2 separate regions of the Homo sapiens genome follow, and region 1 is linked to region 2. Evidence: fine-mapped expression QTL. Tissue or cell type: whole blood. Region 2 holds a variant in brackets; the other region holds the start of a gene. All regions are shown on one strand. Distances are between the middles of the regions.

The links. PIP is the estimated chance that this variant, and not a neighbour inherited with it, causes the effect.
Region 1: it holds the start of MANBA, and the variant in region 2 is fine-mapped to the expression of MANBA in whole blood (INTERVAL, PIP above 0.99).

What each region holds. Positions count from the first base shown.
Region 1 is chr4:102,757,057-102,765,244 of GRCh38, forward strand. MANBA (mannosidase beta) reads right to left here and starts at 3,912. Exons shown (of 17, transcript NM_005908.4): 1 at 3,662-3,912. The coding sequence starts at 3,838. RefSeq lists an enhancer at 3,507-3,856 and a silencer at 3,947-4,076.
Region 2 is chr4:102,692,898-102,701,085 of GRCh38, forward strand. The region is part of intron 5 of MANBA (mannosidase beta); the gene reads right to left. Among named protein-coding and RNA genes, the nearest start is that of MANBA, 64 kb to the right of the region's middle. The variant T/C (reference allele first, on the strand shown) is at 3,969.

The sequences.
Region 1 (8,188 bases), 64 kb after region 2:
CGGTGGCTCATGCCTGTAATTCCAGCACTTTGGAAGGCCGAGGCAGGTGGATGGCCTGAGGTTGGGAGTTCAAGACCAGCCTGACCAACATGGAGAAAGCTTGTCTCTACTAAAAGTACAAAATTAGCCAGGCATGGTGGCACATGCCTGTAATCCCAGCTACCTGGGAGACTGAGGCAGGAGAATCTCTTGAACCCAGGAGGCAGAGGTTGCGGTGAGCCGAGATAGTACCATTGCATTCCAGCCTGGGCAACAAGAGCGAAACTCCGTCTCAAAAAAAAAAAAATAGCAGGCTGAAGGAATAACTTTTCACAGAGAACCCAAAAGACTCTCTAAGAAACCAAAGGTTTAGATTCTGTACAGAAAACCCAGAGAATCACCTAGGAAATAGCCAAGACTAGCCACAGAATCTCTCACTAAATACAAATTTCATTTAACCAGCTCAGATAAAAAAAATCCTGGTATTTTCCTGCACCTCCCCCTTCTGTCTCCCAATCCATTAACAAATCCAACTGAAGAAATCCTCTTGTTTCTACATGTAAAACGTGTTCTCACAACCATTCTCACCATTTCACTGCCACCATGCTTGTCCAAGCCAGAAGTCATCTCTTGCCCATACATAGACCAGCAATAGTCCCCTGGTTGGTCTCCAGGCTTCCACTCTCCTGCACTGTAGCCTTCACACAACAGAGTGACCTTTAAAAAGGCAAATCTAATCATGCTACTCTAAGCTCAAAGCCTCCAATAACTTCCCATCACATGTAGAATAAAAGCCAAAGTGTTTCCTATGGCTCACAGCCTTTCATGATGTGCCCTAGACTTTGAACTCCTCTCCTACCCTCTGGTTCCCAGGTCTCCAGCCACACTGGCCTGCTGACTATTCCTGAAACTTGTCAAGCTCGTGCCTGCCTCAGGGCCTCTATCCTCCCCACTCCTGTGTTTTTCCTCTTTGCTGGAAATGCACTTCTCCTTAAAAGTGACCTTTTCAAACAGGTCTTTTTGTTTAGAAGTCACCTTATCAAAATACCTATCTTGAACCACTTTTTAAAAAATAGCAATGCTTTCCAACCAGCCTTCACTGTCTCTTCCTTTAACCTGCTCAATTTTTCTTCAGTGTGCCACCTGCCTTACATTATTTATTAATTTGGTATATATGTCTATCTCCTCCATTAGAATGTCCATTAGGGAAAGGACTTTGTTTTCTTTACCACTCGATTTCAAGTACTTAGAATAGTGCCTGCCACATTAGAGGTACAAAATAAATATGAGATAATTAACTAGGTGAATAGATAAATAAATGAATGATATCACCAAGATATGTTTCAAGTTCTTACACAAACACAATATTTGGCCCAGTGTCTACTATAAACGGTAGAATATTTCCTCAAGTCAACACCAAAAAGGGATGTTATAATAAAGCAGGTCGGACAACAGTCTCACATTACTGAATAACGATACTGATCTGATGTTGATGATTGCTTCTTTACTTTTTTTCTTTTTTTTTTTTTTTTGAGAGAGGGTGTCACTCTGTTGCCCAGGTTGGAGTACAGATCACGGCTCACTGCAGCCTCAACCTCCTGGGCTCAAACGATCCTCCCACCTCAGCCTCCCTCGTAGCTAGGACCACAGGTGTACGCCACCACGCCCAGTTAATTTTTTAATTTTTTGTAGAGACAGGGTCTCGCCAGTTGCCCAGACTGGTCTAAACTCCACCTACCTCTGCCTCCCAAGTGCTGGGATTATAGGCATGAGCCACTGTGCCCAGCCTGATGATTATTTTCAACAGGCCTTGTGTTTCCTAAGCCCCAAAAGCCTTCCCATTTCTCATTCCACTGCCATTTGAGACCCATGGCCACCTGATTGAAACCTCAAGGTTTTGCTAAGAATTTATGAAGAGAGTTAAGAAATCTCTTCAAATTGTTCCTATGAGGAAGTTATTTCATACTATGAGCAAATTCATTTTCATTAAGTATCTGTTGTAACCAAACGTTGTTTCTTAGCTTCTTAGCTCTGTAATATGGCACAATAATCTGACTTACTGAAGCCACTCATTATTTCCCATTGGCTTAATTCTTTCTTTCTTTTTTTTTTTTTTTAGAGATAGAATCTCTCTATGTTGGCCATGCTGGTCTTGAACTCTTGGCCTCAAGAAATTTTCCCACCTCGGCCTCATAGACTCTTTCTATGTTGGCCATGCTGGTCTTGAACTCCTGGACTCAAGGGATCCTCCTACCTTGGCCTCCCAAAGCTCTCACGTACCAGCACCCATTGGCTTAATTATTTCAGTAAAATCAGGCAAGGAGGAACCCTACAAAATAAACACAGGCATTCTCAAAGCAGATATAAGTGAAAACTCAGAGTATACTGTGGTCAGCTGTGTTCTCTATCACAAGTAGTTTGTCAACTTAAAATAAAGTACTAAAGTTTGGGAATGATCTACTCTAAAAATACATCGGACAATGGTCAATGTCATTTACAACATTCACCTCCTTTCTGATACACATCTCAGGAAAAAAAAAAAAAAAACTACTAAGTACCAGGTCAGAAATTTGGCACAACCCTAGATGACCACCTTGTCATGCAAATAAACTTAGAATGGTGCTCCTGAAAGTCAGCCACAGTGCTTCAAAAACACATGATTTTTTAAAACACCAAACTAAGCATACCACATAGTATAGAGACCAGGCTATGGAGTTGAGACCACCTGGGTTAGAATTCCATTTCTTTCCATTTAGTTGCTGTCACCTTCCTAATTTCTCTGTGTTCCATAATTCCATATTATCCATAAAATTCAGATATGAACACTTACTATACAGAGTTGTTATGAGGATTGGACAATGTATGCATCCCACAAGTAGATCAATTACAAGTACATTTTGCCCCAAGTAAAGACAACACGTGGGAACGCTGTGCAAGAGGGAACAGCAAAAGCAGTTGGAGGATGGAAGTCAGTTTGCAAACCTATGCGCACAGGCAGCCAAACACGAAAACGTTCCCCACAAGTAGTCTGTAAATTGGAGACTCCATTGGGATACACACACACACACACACACACGCCCTGAGAGGAAATAGCACCTTTCTTCATCACCAAGTTAGCCTTAAAAATTATTTACCCGTTGTTAGCCACACTAGCACTGACAAACCCAACTTTACTCTTGTAGGTCATTCTCCACAACGTCTGTGCTGCGTCAATCCCAAATCTGACTCCCTGACGCTTAACAGCGAAAATAAAAAACCGAGACATTACTCAATAGAGTTAACCCTTACTTAACAAAACGCTGTTGTCCCCTGTGGCGTGCAGACAGTAGAGACAGTAATTCCCGACCTTATGCTTGTCAGTGACGGCATGCCCTTTGTATACACGCTTCAGTAGAGAACGACTGCAGTAAGTAAACTGCTAGTAGCAACACTGTTCCCCTATCTAAACTTCCCCTTTCCAGAGTTACTGATGTCCCAACATGGGTCGGTCGCTCAGTCTCCGTCAAGCCCGTACCCCATAGCTTGGGCATTTCCCCCCGCAGATCACAAGATGCAAAGGGGAAGTTACTACCAAACCGACGAGAATGGCCCAGAGCTGGGGGCTGCCAGGCGGTTCCTGGGCCCCTCTCAGCACCAGAAGAAGGCGGGCGCAGGCTCGCCGCGGGTCGGCCGCACGCCATACCTGGATCAGGCCCTGCTGGAACAAGGCGCTGTGCACGCAGCCAGGGACCGCCCCGGGCAGCTCCAGCGAGCCGTTCCCATTGCAGATGCTCCAGTTGCCACGCAAGCTGTAACTGAGCTCCGCGGCGGTGGTGCCTGCACCGCACAGCGCGAGCAGCAGGAGCAGGTGGAGGCGCATCTTGAGATCCCGCGCCACCGAGATGTGGAGAGATCGAAAGGCAGCGCTGCAAGGGACCGGCGGTGAAGCCACTCACCCCCTCGGAAGTAGCCGAGGCTTTAGGTCCCCGCCCCGGCCCCGCCCCTAGGTCAGCTGAGCGCTCTCCGGGCGCAGCCGCGGGCGGGAGGGGAACGAGGAGGCTGCGCCTGCACCCGCTGAAAGCCGGGCGTCGCGGGTGCGGGAGCTGCAGCCCCCGAGAATAGCTACAGGCTGGGGGGCATTGCGGTCTGAGCCTTCCCTCGGCGCTTCTTCCCGCCGCCTCAGTACATACAACTGGAGGCAAGAATCTTGCACGGTAATTGGGACAGAAAGATCCCTGGGCGCGCAGTGGCACAAAGCCTCGGGAGATCAGAGACCGACTGTACGTGGAGACCATAGCTGGAGAGTCCCCTCACTCCTTCAGAGAACCCAAACTGGGAGACAACCCACCACTTCCCTTCCGCCAAATTTACACAGACCCTCGTCTACCTGGTAGCGTAACACTCACCCCGCTGCAGCTCAACTCGCGGGTCTCAGAGCCTACCCCGCCCTTCAAAGAGTAAACAAGTACTAGCAGTATCTCCATCAGAAGGTTGTTCTGAGGGCTAACCAAGAAAATGCGACTATAGCATGCAGCATGGAGCCTGGCCCAGAGAAGGCATTCACGTTAGCTATTGTTACTAGCGGCCTGCGTCCTTATGTTTCATAAAGCCCCACGGAGGTTTCTGAGGTTCTGGAACCTGCACTAGGCGCGCAGCTGAGTTTAAAATCCTCTGCACTCACTAGCTGTGGGACCTGGGCAAGCCGCAAAATCTCCATCTCCGTTTCTTGAAGTTTTCAAGGTGTTATAAGTATAAAATGAGTAAACATATGTGATCGTCCCTAACAATGCCAGAGTACCCAAGAAATACCACTGACTTATTTCGGGTCTTGTAGTCAAATGGTCTACCTGAGTCCCATTTTTGCAATAGGATGTAACAGTAATCCTAGAAGTTAAGACGGAATTTTACATTGCATAAAATAGACTGCCTTTCTCCTGTGTTGACGCTATCTGCCGTATATTTATGCTTCGGAAGAAGTCCTTGAAAAGAAATTTTCTCTCATCAAATCTGAGCTTTGTTTCGCCTTACAATGGCCTTGGAATTGCCTGATTCTGCAGACACCGGGCAATATCTTACTTTGCAAAGTCAGCATTATTTACAAGCCCTGAATATCTTGGCTTAAAGGACAGTATGGATTATCCAACCCAAGCCGCTGGCTTTACAGATGAGGGAACTGAGTTCAAAGAGATCGGGGCCAGGCGCGGTGGCTCACGTCTGTAATCCCAGCACTTCTGGGAGGCCGAGGCGGGTGGATCACTTGAGGTCAGGAGTTCGAGGCCAGCCTGGCCAACATGGTGAAACCCTGTCTCTATTAAAAATACAAAAATTAGCTGGGCGCGTGGTGGCACGTGCCTGTAGTCGCAGGTGCTCGGGAAACTGAGGCAGGAGAACCGCTTGAACCCAGGAAGCAGAGGTTGCAGTAAGCCGAGATGGCACTACTGCACTCCAGCCTGGGCTATAGAGAAAGACTCTAAAAAAAAAAAAAAAAAAAAGATCAGGTGACTTGCCTGTCACATAGTGGCAGACAGGATTAGAACCCTCCTCTTCAAGGTCCTACTGTCAGAGCCCAATGATGCTATAGGGGAAACGCTCTCACTGCTTCAAAGCCTTCCTCACTCACTCCAGAAGCATTTTTACCTTTGATAGAAACAAAGCTCTCAATTCAAATTATATGCCATAATTCACGGCATTAAATGGCTAGCCATGGTCTGTGCAACACTGATAACACAAGGTTTATGGCAACAAGAGCGGCAAAGGAATTTTTTCATAATTCCCAGAGATTTCATTAAGCCAAATCAGAGGAAAATTCATCCTTGATGATACATATGGATATATTCTGTTTATTAAGAAATATAATTTTTAGAAAAACAATAATAGAAGATTCTCATTCCTCCTTTCATTCCAGGATGCAAGCATAACATCATTTAGGTTACTTCACTTTGACAACAGAGAACATCAAAGAATAATCAAAGCCCTAATAAGTACTCTTCCTAAAATTGCAATTGGCACAGATGACATGATGTTTTCATTTTGTTATAGGATAATTTTTGTCCATGATTTTCTGGTAAATAAACCTTATTTAGAGATAACATAAAACTTCTCAACTTATGTAATTTAAAGTCATGATACCAAATGCAATGTTTAAAATAGTTATGGGTATCTTTAACTTACACTGTATAAACAGATTTCATTTTGATCATTTCATTTGATGCTTCCCAAAACTTGAATTATTTAGAACAAGTGATCGTTCCCTGGTTTAAAAAGATAAATAATGCCCACGGTGATTAAATGATGTGTAGGGTCAGTATCCTGTCACAACAGACCAATGGAAGTAGTTAGGCCCTTTGCTATATGACAACATTTCCTTCATATCTAAATATATAAAATTGGTAAACTCATTAGAACACCATGGTATATACCAAGGCCAATGATATTCCAATCCCATGATATATTACAGAAGTTATAATAAGGGAAAGAAAATGAAAGAGTAATCAGATGTGGAGTGGACATTTGCCTTTAGACTCATAGTGTCTGATTAAACCCCAGGACTGGGGATAATAGCCCATAAGTATCCTGCCCAAAGGTTTGACATACTTCCCCAGAGTTTGAAGCCCCAAATGTTAGAACAAAGAGAGAAGGTAGTGGAAACTATGTACACCACTAGAATTTGGTGTGTCAAGGATGCATATGCATGAGTTTCCTATAAACCAAGAGGACACCGTAGGAAGTAACCAGGCTTGAGCCAGTATAATGGGATTCTACCCAAGAGAGTCCAAGAAGTCAACTAGAGGACACATGGCCTATGTCAGCAAACTGTGTATATATATACATATACTGTATATATACATATATACATATACGTATATATATACATATACTGTATATATACATACATACATATACTGTATATATACATATATACATACATATACAAATATATATTTTAAATATATATAATTTATATAATAATATAAATATATAAAAATATATAATATAATTATATTATATAATATAATTATATAATTAGGAATATAATATATTATATTCCTAAATAATGCATGGGTCAAAACAATAATAGATTTCCAATTTCTGGCCTGGCATGTAAGGACCTTGGAAGTCATCACTCTATCCTAAAAAGCAAGTAAAAAGCTGCACAAATTGAAAATAGACAACTCTTCTTAGATGAGTCAAAGAAGTGAGGTCACAGGGCAGACTGCTGCCCCAAAATTAGAGATGTAGACAGGTAGATACAGGCAATTACAACTTAACTGAGTAGACCACACACACTACCCCACAACCGTTGTCCCATAGCTGAAATCTCAGTGGGAACCAGTACAGAGTAGGAAGACCTGGACTATAATTGACAAATTACTGGAGGACCAATATGCACAAATTTGAGAGTTAAAAACTCCAAGGGGGCCCAGTCTTAGGGGAGCAGCTGTGCTTTTGTAAGTTTGCCTCCAGGAGCTCCACAAAGCTCTCATAGTGAAGATTGAAGAAAAATCCTCTCGTGTTTCCTGCAAGGGAGGAGGAAAGTAACTATTCTGAATGTGCCAGAGATTCTGTGCTTCTTAACAAGACCCACTCTCAAAAGAAACAATTTTACCAGAGCTGAACCAACTGGGGTTTTATCAGAGTCTCGCCAGCCTGGGAGAAGGAAAATACCCAACTCCAGCCCCCCATAGACATTCTGCCCCATCTAAGGGGGTGAAACATAGCTGAGAAGCACTGTGAAGTTCACAGTCCAGGGGACTGGGCTCACTAGATGACTGAGACCTAATCAGAGGAAAATAGACCATTTTCCCTCTCCCAACACCTTCCCAACACATCACTGAAGGCCTATTTATGGCAATTCCTTTCACCCAGGATGTCATGTATGGCTTTCAACAAAAATTTACAAAGCCAAAGATACAACTTGGAAAGACAAAGCAAATGCCAAAACCAAACTCACATATGGGAGGAATGTCAGAATTATCAGTCCAGGAATTTAAAATAACTATGATTAATATGCTGAGAGCTCTAATGGAAAATTTACACAACATACAAAAACAGATGGGTAACGTAAGCAGAGACATGGAAATTCTAAAAAATAATAAAAAATGCTAGAGATGAAAAGCACCATAACAGAAATGAAGAATGGCGTATTAGTAGATGGAACACGGCTGAGAAAAGAATCTCTGAGCTTGAGGGTATGTCAACAGAAACTTTCAAAACCAAAAAGCAGAGAAAA
Region 2 (8,188 bases):
ATGACAAAAGACGTTATAACCGGCACTGTTTACAACTGTAGGAGCACACCAGGCCTGTTCTAAAGATGACCCCAGCACAGTTTATCATTCGCATCTCCCATCAGCCAAAAGCATAGATTTGATGCACATTGAAGTAAAATTAATCCTGGACTTAAGAACTATTTTTGTTTATTAAGTGATTTATTCTGAGAAATACTAGTCGATGAGCTCTGAGTTAGGTTTGTTCTGATCCAGTTAATTTTGCAGGTTACTTACCGATAGCCTCCAGGTTTTGAATCTATCAGCTGGTAGATCACCTAGTCTGCTCGCTCACCAGTGTTTAATTTCCTCTATTCAATAGGTTGTCAAACTATGGTCTTTGGGACAAATCTAGCCCACCTCTTGTTTTTATAAATAAACTTTTATTGGAACACAGATGTTATGGACTAAATGGTGGACTCTTCCCCTAAAATTCTTATGTTGAAGCCCTAACCTCCAGCTTTTTATGAAGTAATAAGGGTGGGGCAGTAATCTGTTAGGATTGCAGCCTTATAAGAAGAGGAAGAAACAGATATCCGTCTCTCTCTCTACTATGTGAGGACATAGCAAGAAGGCATCTGTCTGCAAGCCAGGAAACGAGCCCTCACTGGAAACCAAATGGGCCAACACCTTTATCTCGGACTTCCCAGCTGCCAGAACTACGAGAAATAAACTTCTGTTATTTAAGCCACTCTGCCTATGGTATTTTCTTAGGGCAGCCAGAGCAGACTAACTTAATAGTCATGCTCATTTGTTTACTTATTGTCTTTGGTTACCTTTGCAATACAACAGTAGAGTTGAGTAGTTGTGACAGATGCCTAAACTATTTTACTATGTGATCCTTAAGAGAAAAAGTTTGCTAATCCCTGCCCTAGAATATTACCCCCAAAAAAGGCCATTCCAACCTTTCTTTAAATATCTCTAATGACAAAAAAACCTCTGCCTCACAAAATAGCCTTCCCATTTTTGCCAGGCTTGGCTATTGTAAAGACTCCCTTTACACTGAATTTGAAATATACTTCTCCTTAATATCCAACTAAAGATTTTAGCTCTGTCCTTTGAGCACCTCCTACCAACGAAGCAGGCTCCTGTGTTGTTTTCTGTTACTTCTTCTTTAGTAGGAGAATCAGCTGTTAGTGACAGCCTCTGACAGGAAAACAAATAATGCAATCCTCAAAGGTCATCGGCAAAATTCCCCAGTTTCTCTTGCTTTGAACTTGGAAGGTTCTCGAGCAAGTCCGCACTCCTCCAGAGCATCACCCGTTAACACCCCTGGGAACTACTAAATGAAAAAACTAAGGTTGTAGAATTAAAAACACAGTATGAAGATCTACAAGCCTACAAAGTTATCACCAGATATACTTAATAACATATTTTTCCCCTCTCCTCTTCTTTCAAATAGAGTAAACCCCTTCCTTCCAGTAGCACATGGAAAAGTAGGTAATTTAGGTTCACAAGGCGCAAAGTCTTAAATAACCAGTAGTTTTCCTGATGTTCTTTGGTCACTCCTTTTCACTTGCTAAATTAAATTTATAAATTGCATAATCCTATTTGTAGTTAAGAAGAACTCCATCTTATAAATTAAGCCCCATTTCTAGAATACAGCTTCCTATCATCTCTCTCCTAGCATTAATAAGTCACCATGTCTTGAAGAACACTTATCATCACCAGCTCTCCTGAAGTAAAATGCAAGATCACTTCAAAAATGGATGAAGTACTGGGGGTGAGGGCAGGAAAGAAGGATTGCTACATCTTCTAGAATCCCCTACAGAGCTCATCCTTCCAATCACACCACCAAGTTCTGCATCCTCTCTTCACTTTGACTAAACAACTCAGCACAAAGAGGACAGGAATTCTTTATCAAAACAGGTGCAAAGGCAATGCTGGCCTGCCCTCTCCACAATTCAAGGCCTTGAGGCCCTCCCTGGCCTGAAGGCTTATTGGTGTCCTCGCTGATGTCCTAAGCCCAAGCAGAAGAGATTATGTTCTACAGTTTGTTCATATAACCTCAATCAGGAAGGCAACCCAGAGGATGGTAGAGAATGTGGTTCTGGCCACTAATTCGCTTTAAGGTTTTCCCAGAGATGACTCAGTGAGTGTTCTTTAAAAAAAGAAAAAAACAAAGAGCACAATGTGTCTGACCTGGATGGGAATTTGTAGAAAGGTAAACAGCTACATAGCCTAGATTAATGTATACTGCTCCTTCGTTCAGAGTATCACAAGACAACTCTAGCTCATGTAGATGTGTCCAGTACATCAGCCTTCAAAATCTTCTCAAATACGCCAGCTTCCTCTTATATTCTCATACAGTCTACTCCTTTATTAAGATGTAGTTGGAGGGGGGACAAAAAGCCAAAAAAAAAGAAAAAAAGCTTTATTCAATTGTCTAGGAGAAAAAGGTATAAGGAGAGATATAGAAAGTAGAAAAATAAGAGGACTCAGTTACATTACTTCAAGTTTGTCAAAAAGTAACAGGAAGACATACTCCCAAACTATACACTGAACCTTGCTTTAATTGATTGTAATAAAGACTCAAGTATCAATGTTTTCATCTAGTCATGTGATGTCTAGTTTCAAGAAAAACTGGGTTGTTCCATACTTATACCCTCATTGGGTGGTAATGACTATTCTAACTTACAAACAAAGGAAAAGAACCACAAAATGTTCGAGGTAGAAGAAACTTGGAGATGTTCTCATCACTTTGCAGATGTTTCTGAGGCCCTGACTGCAGCACTTCCCTCTTGAGCCAGTGGACAGGCCAAGGGTCCAGGTTTCCTAACTCTGGTGCTCTCGACTTTCCATGAGCCTCTCGCAGCGATGCCTACCAAAAGGAATGACACTCACAGGTACACAACGATTGACATTTGTATATGAATAATGAGGAAAAGCAAAAGCAAAGGTACTTTTTGCCTTTCAGAGTCCTAAAGCCAAATGTCGAATATATTCAATGTAAAACAAAGCATTCTGGGGGCACTGTAATAATAAAATGTTAGCCTAAGAGGGTCTCTGTAAAAAAAGAATACTGAAATGGGCAGGGTGTAGTGGCTCGTGCCTATAGTCCCAGCACTTTGGTAGGCTGAGGCAGGAGGATCTCTTGAGCCCAGGTGTTTGAGACCAGCCTGGGCTACATAATGAGACCCCATCTCTAAAAATAATTTTAAAATTAGCTGGGTGTGGTGGCACGCCTGTGGTCCCAGCTACTTCAGTGGCTGAGATGAGAGGATCGCTTGAGCCCAGGAGGTCAAGGCTAATGTGAGCTGAGATTGCTCCACTACACTCCAGCCTGTGCAACAGCATGAGACTTTGTCTCAAAGTAAAAAAAGAAAGGACACTGAAATCTACAAACATAGAGAATATGTCTGACCCTCTGCTAAACGTGTATTTATATGATGCCACAGTTCCTGTACTTATCAAAATACTGTCTTTGTAACCTAAACTAGCTGAAAAGGCACTAAAATAGTTATGTGAGCATTTGTGTCAAGCAAATGAAATCTATTTCTTGAATAACTACTGTCTGTAAAACCTTGACAGGCATTATAAATTATATCCCAATCCAAAAAGGCAAATATGTTGTCTCTAACTCTCTGAACATATTTAGAAAGATAAAATATACCCAAGTGTCGCAGTTAAGAATACAGGATGGCATCAGGAACCATAAGGACTAGCAGGGCAGTGAAAGTTCAGAGGCAGGGCACATTCAAGTCAGCAAGGGATGAATCTGCAAACACTGGTAGATGAAAAAGATGCTTCATCTCACTGGGGGGAAAACCTATTCAAAGATAGCTGCCTGGATTAGCTTTGCCCTGCTGAGCTCCTCACAGCTCCCCCTTTTGCAGGCTCTCTTCTTCCTCCATCTTTAATAGAGTATGAAAAGCTGCAGGGAAAGGTAGTTATGTGCATTTAAAGAAACAGCAATGACACCAAATGAAATGAACAAGCCATGGAATTTA[T/C]AAATTCAAACATTAGATATTTTCCGGTACTCCTGCCAGAATCATGGGACAGACTTAAGCAGCTGCTTTTCAAAGAGCTAACCATTGCGTTAGCCAAAAATGTTGGCCCACAGTTAGTTAAAACAGCTGTTTTCCCTCTTCTTCACCAAGCAGCAAGATCTCCTTACCTACTCAGCAGTACAAAATCCTTGAAACTGAAATCAAGGCAAAAGAGACGCAAGGCAAAATGTTTCCTAGAACAAGGATAAGTTAGTAAGCTCCAAAGAAGAAAATTTACTCAAGCAATGAGGAGACTAATCACAGGAAAAATTATTCAAGCAACCTACCCTCTCTATGGGTATTTCAAGCAAAATACCCATAAAGTTATTTTCAAGGATTATTTTATGGAAAAAATAATTTAAAGATGAATGAAAAATTGATTCCAAATGAATGCATTAAAAAATGCATGCTTATCAAATAAGCAAGACTGACAAATCTTTATTTTATTTTATTTTTTTATTATTATTATACTTTAAGTTTTAGGGTACATGTGCACAATGTGCAGGTTAGTTACATATGTATACATGTGCCATGCTGGTGCGCTGCACCCACTAAACTTGTCATCTATCATTAGGTATATCTCCCAATGCTATCCCTCCCCCCTCCCCCCACCCCACAACAGTCCCCAGAGTGTGATGTTCCCCTTCCTGTGTCCATGTGTTCTCATTGTTCAATTCCCACCTATGAGTGAGAATATGCGGTGTTTGGTTTTTTGTTCTTGCGATAGTTTACTGAGAATGATGATTTCCAATTTCATCCATGTCCCTACAAAGGACATGAACTCATCATTTTTTATGGCTGCATAGTATTCCATGGTGTATATGTGCCACATTTTCTTAATCCAGTCTATCATTGTTGGACATTTGGGTTGGTTCCAAGTCTTTGCTATTGTGAATAGTGCCACAATAAACATACCTGTGCATGTGTCTTTAGAGCAGCATGATTTATAGTCCTTTGGATATATACCCTGTAATGGGATGGCTGGGTCAAATGGTATTTCTAGTTCTAGATCCCTGAGGAATCGCCACACTGACTTCCACAATGGTTGAACTAGTTTACAGTCCCACCAACAGTGTAAAAGTGTTCCTATTTCTCCACAACCTCTCCAGCACCTGTTGTTTCCTGACTTTTTAATGATTGCCATTCTAACTGGTGTGAGATGGTATCTCATTGTGGTTTTGATTTGCATTTCTCTGATGGCCAGTGATGATGAGCATTTTTTCATGTTTTTTGGCTGCATAAATGACTTCTTTTGAGAAGTGTCTGTTCATGTCCTTTGCCCACTTTTTGATGGGGTTGTTTGTCTTTTTCTTGTAAATTTGTTTGAGTTCATTGTAGATTCTGGATATTAGCCCTTTGTCAGACGAGTAGGTTGTGAAAATTTTCTCCCATTTTGTGGGTTGCCTGTTCACTCTGATGGTAGTTTCTTTTGCTGTGCAGAAGCTCTTTAGTTTAATTAGATCCCATTTGTCAATTTTGGCTTTTGTTGCCATTGCTTTTGGTGTTTTAGACATGAAGTCCTTGCCCATGCCTATGTCCTGAATGGTAATGCCTAGGTTTTCTTCTAGGGTTTTTATGGTTTTAGGTCTAACGTTTAAGTCTTTAATCCATCTTGAATTGATTTTTGTATAAGGTGTAAGGAAGGGATCCAGTTTCAGCTTTCTACATATGGCTAGCCAGTTTTCCCAGCACCATTTATTGAATAGGGAATCCTTTCCCCATTGCTTGTTTTTCTCAGGTTTGTCAAAGATCAGATAGTTGTAGATATACAGCGTTATTTCTGAGGGCTCTATTCTGTTCCCTTGATCTATATCTCTGTTTTGGTACCAGTACCATGCTGTTTTGGTTACTGTAGCCTTGTAGTATAGTTTGAAGTCAGGTAGTGTGATGCCTCCAGCTTTGTTCTTTTGGCTTAGGATTGACTTGGCGATGTGGGCTCTTTTTTGGTTCCATATGAACTTTAAAGTAGTTTTTTCCAATTCTGTGAGGAAAGTCATTGGTAGCTTGATGGGGATGGCATTGAATCTATAAATTACCTTGGGCAGTATGGCCATTTTCACAATATTGATTCTTCCTACCCATGAGTATGGAATGTTCTTCCATTTGTTTGTATCCTCTTTTATTTCATTGAGCAGTGGTTTGTAGTTCTCCTTGAAGAGGTCCTTCACGTCCCTTGTAAGGTGGATTCCTAGGTATTTTATTCTCTTTGAAGCAATTGTGAATGGGAGTTCACTCATGATTTGGCCCTCTGTTTGTCTGTTATTGGTGTATAAGAATGCTTGTGATTTATATACATTGATTTTGTATCCTGAGACTTTGCTGACGTTGCTTATCAGCTTAAGGAGATTTTGGGCTGAGACAATGGGGTTTTCTAGATATACAATCATGTCGTCTGCAAACAGGGACAATTTGACTTCCTCTTTTCCTAATTGAATACCCTTTATTTCCTTCTCCTGCCTAATTGCCCTGGCCAGAACTTCCAACACTATGTTGAATAGGAATGGTGAGAGATGGCATCCCTGTCTTGTGCCAGTTTTCAAAGGGAATGCTTCCAGTTTTTGCCCATTCAGTATGATATTGGCTGTGGGTTTGTCATAGATAGCTCTTATTATTTTGAGATACGTCCCATCAATACCTAATTTATTGAGAGTTTTTAGCATGAAGGGTTGTTGAATTTTGTCAAAGGCCTTTTCTGCATCTATAGAGATAATCATGTGGTTTTTGTCTTTGGTTCTGTTTATATGATGTATTACATTGATTGATTTGCATATATTGAACCAGCCTTGCATCCCAGGGATGAAGCCCACTTGATCATGGTGGATAAGCTTTTTGATGTGCTGCTGGATCCGGTTTGCCAGTATTTTATTGAGGATTTTTGCATCAATGTTCATGAAGGATATGGGTCTAAAATTCTCTTTTTTGGTTGTGTCTCTGCCCAGCTTTGGTATCAGGATGATGCTGGCCTCATAAAATGAGTTAGGGAGGATTCCCTCTTTTTCTATTGATTGGAATAGTTTCAGAAGGAATGGTACCAGTTCCTCCTTGTACCTCTGGTAGAATTCAGCTGTAAATCCATCTGGTCCTGGACTCTTTTTGGTTGGTAAGCTATTGATTATTGCCACAATTTCAGATCCTGTTATTGGTCTATTCAGAGATTCAACTTCTTCCTGGTTTAGTCTTGGGAGAGTGTATGTGTCGAGGAATTTATCCATTTCTTCTAGATTTTCTAGTTTATTTGCGTAGAGGTGTTTGTAGTATTCTCTGATGGTAGTTTGTATTTCTGTGGGATCGGTGGTGATATCCCCTTTATCATTTTTTATTGCATCTATTTGATTCTTCTCTCTTTTTTTCTTTATTAGTCTTGCTAACGGTCTATCAATTTTGTTGATCCTTTCAAAAAACCAGCTCCTGGATTCATTAATTTTTTGAAGGGTTTTTTGTGTCTCTATTTCCTTCAGTTCTGCTCTGATTTTAGTTATTTCTTGCCTTCTGCTAGCTTTCGAATGTGTTTGCTCTTGCTTTTCTAATTCTTTTAATTGTGATGTTAGGGTGTCAATTTTGGATCTTTCCTGCTTTCTCTTGTGGGCATTTAGTGCTATAAATTTCCCTCTACACACTGCTTTGAATGTGTCCCAGAGATTCTGGTATGTTGTGTCTTTGTTCTCGTTGGTTTCAAAAAACATCTTTATTTCTGCCTTCATTTCGTTATGTACCCAGTAGTCATTCTGGAGCAGGTTGTTCAGTTTCCATGTAGTTGAGCGGTTTTGAGTGAGTTTCTTAATTCTGAGTTCTAGTTTGATTGCGCTGTGGTCTGAGAGATAGTTTGTTATAATTTATGTTCTTCTACATTTGCTGAGGAGTGCTTTACTTCCAACTATGTGGTCAATTTTGGAATAGGTGTGATGTGGTGCTGAAAAAAATGTATATTCTGTTGATATAGGGTAGAGAGTTCTGTAGATGTCTATTAGGTCCGCTTGGTGCAGAGCTGAGTTCAATTCCTGGGTATCCTTGTTAACTTTCTGTCTCGTTGATCTGTCTAATGTTGACAGTGGGGTGTTAAAGTCTCCCATTATTAATGTGTGGGAGTCTAAGTCTCTTTGTAGGTCACTCAGGACTTGCTTTATGAATCTGGGTGCTCCTGTATTGGGTGCATATATATTTAGGATAGTTAGCTCTTCTTG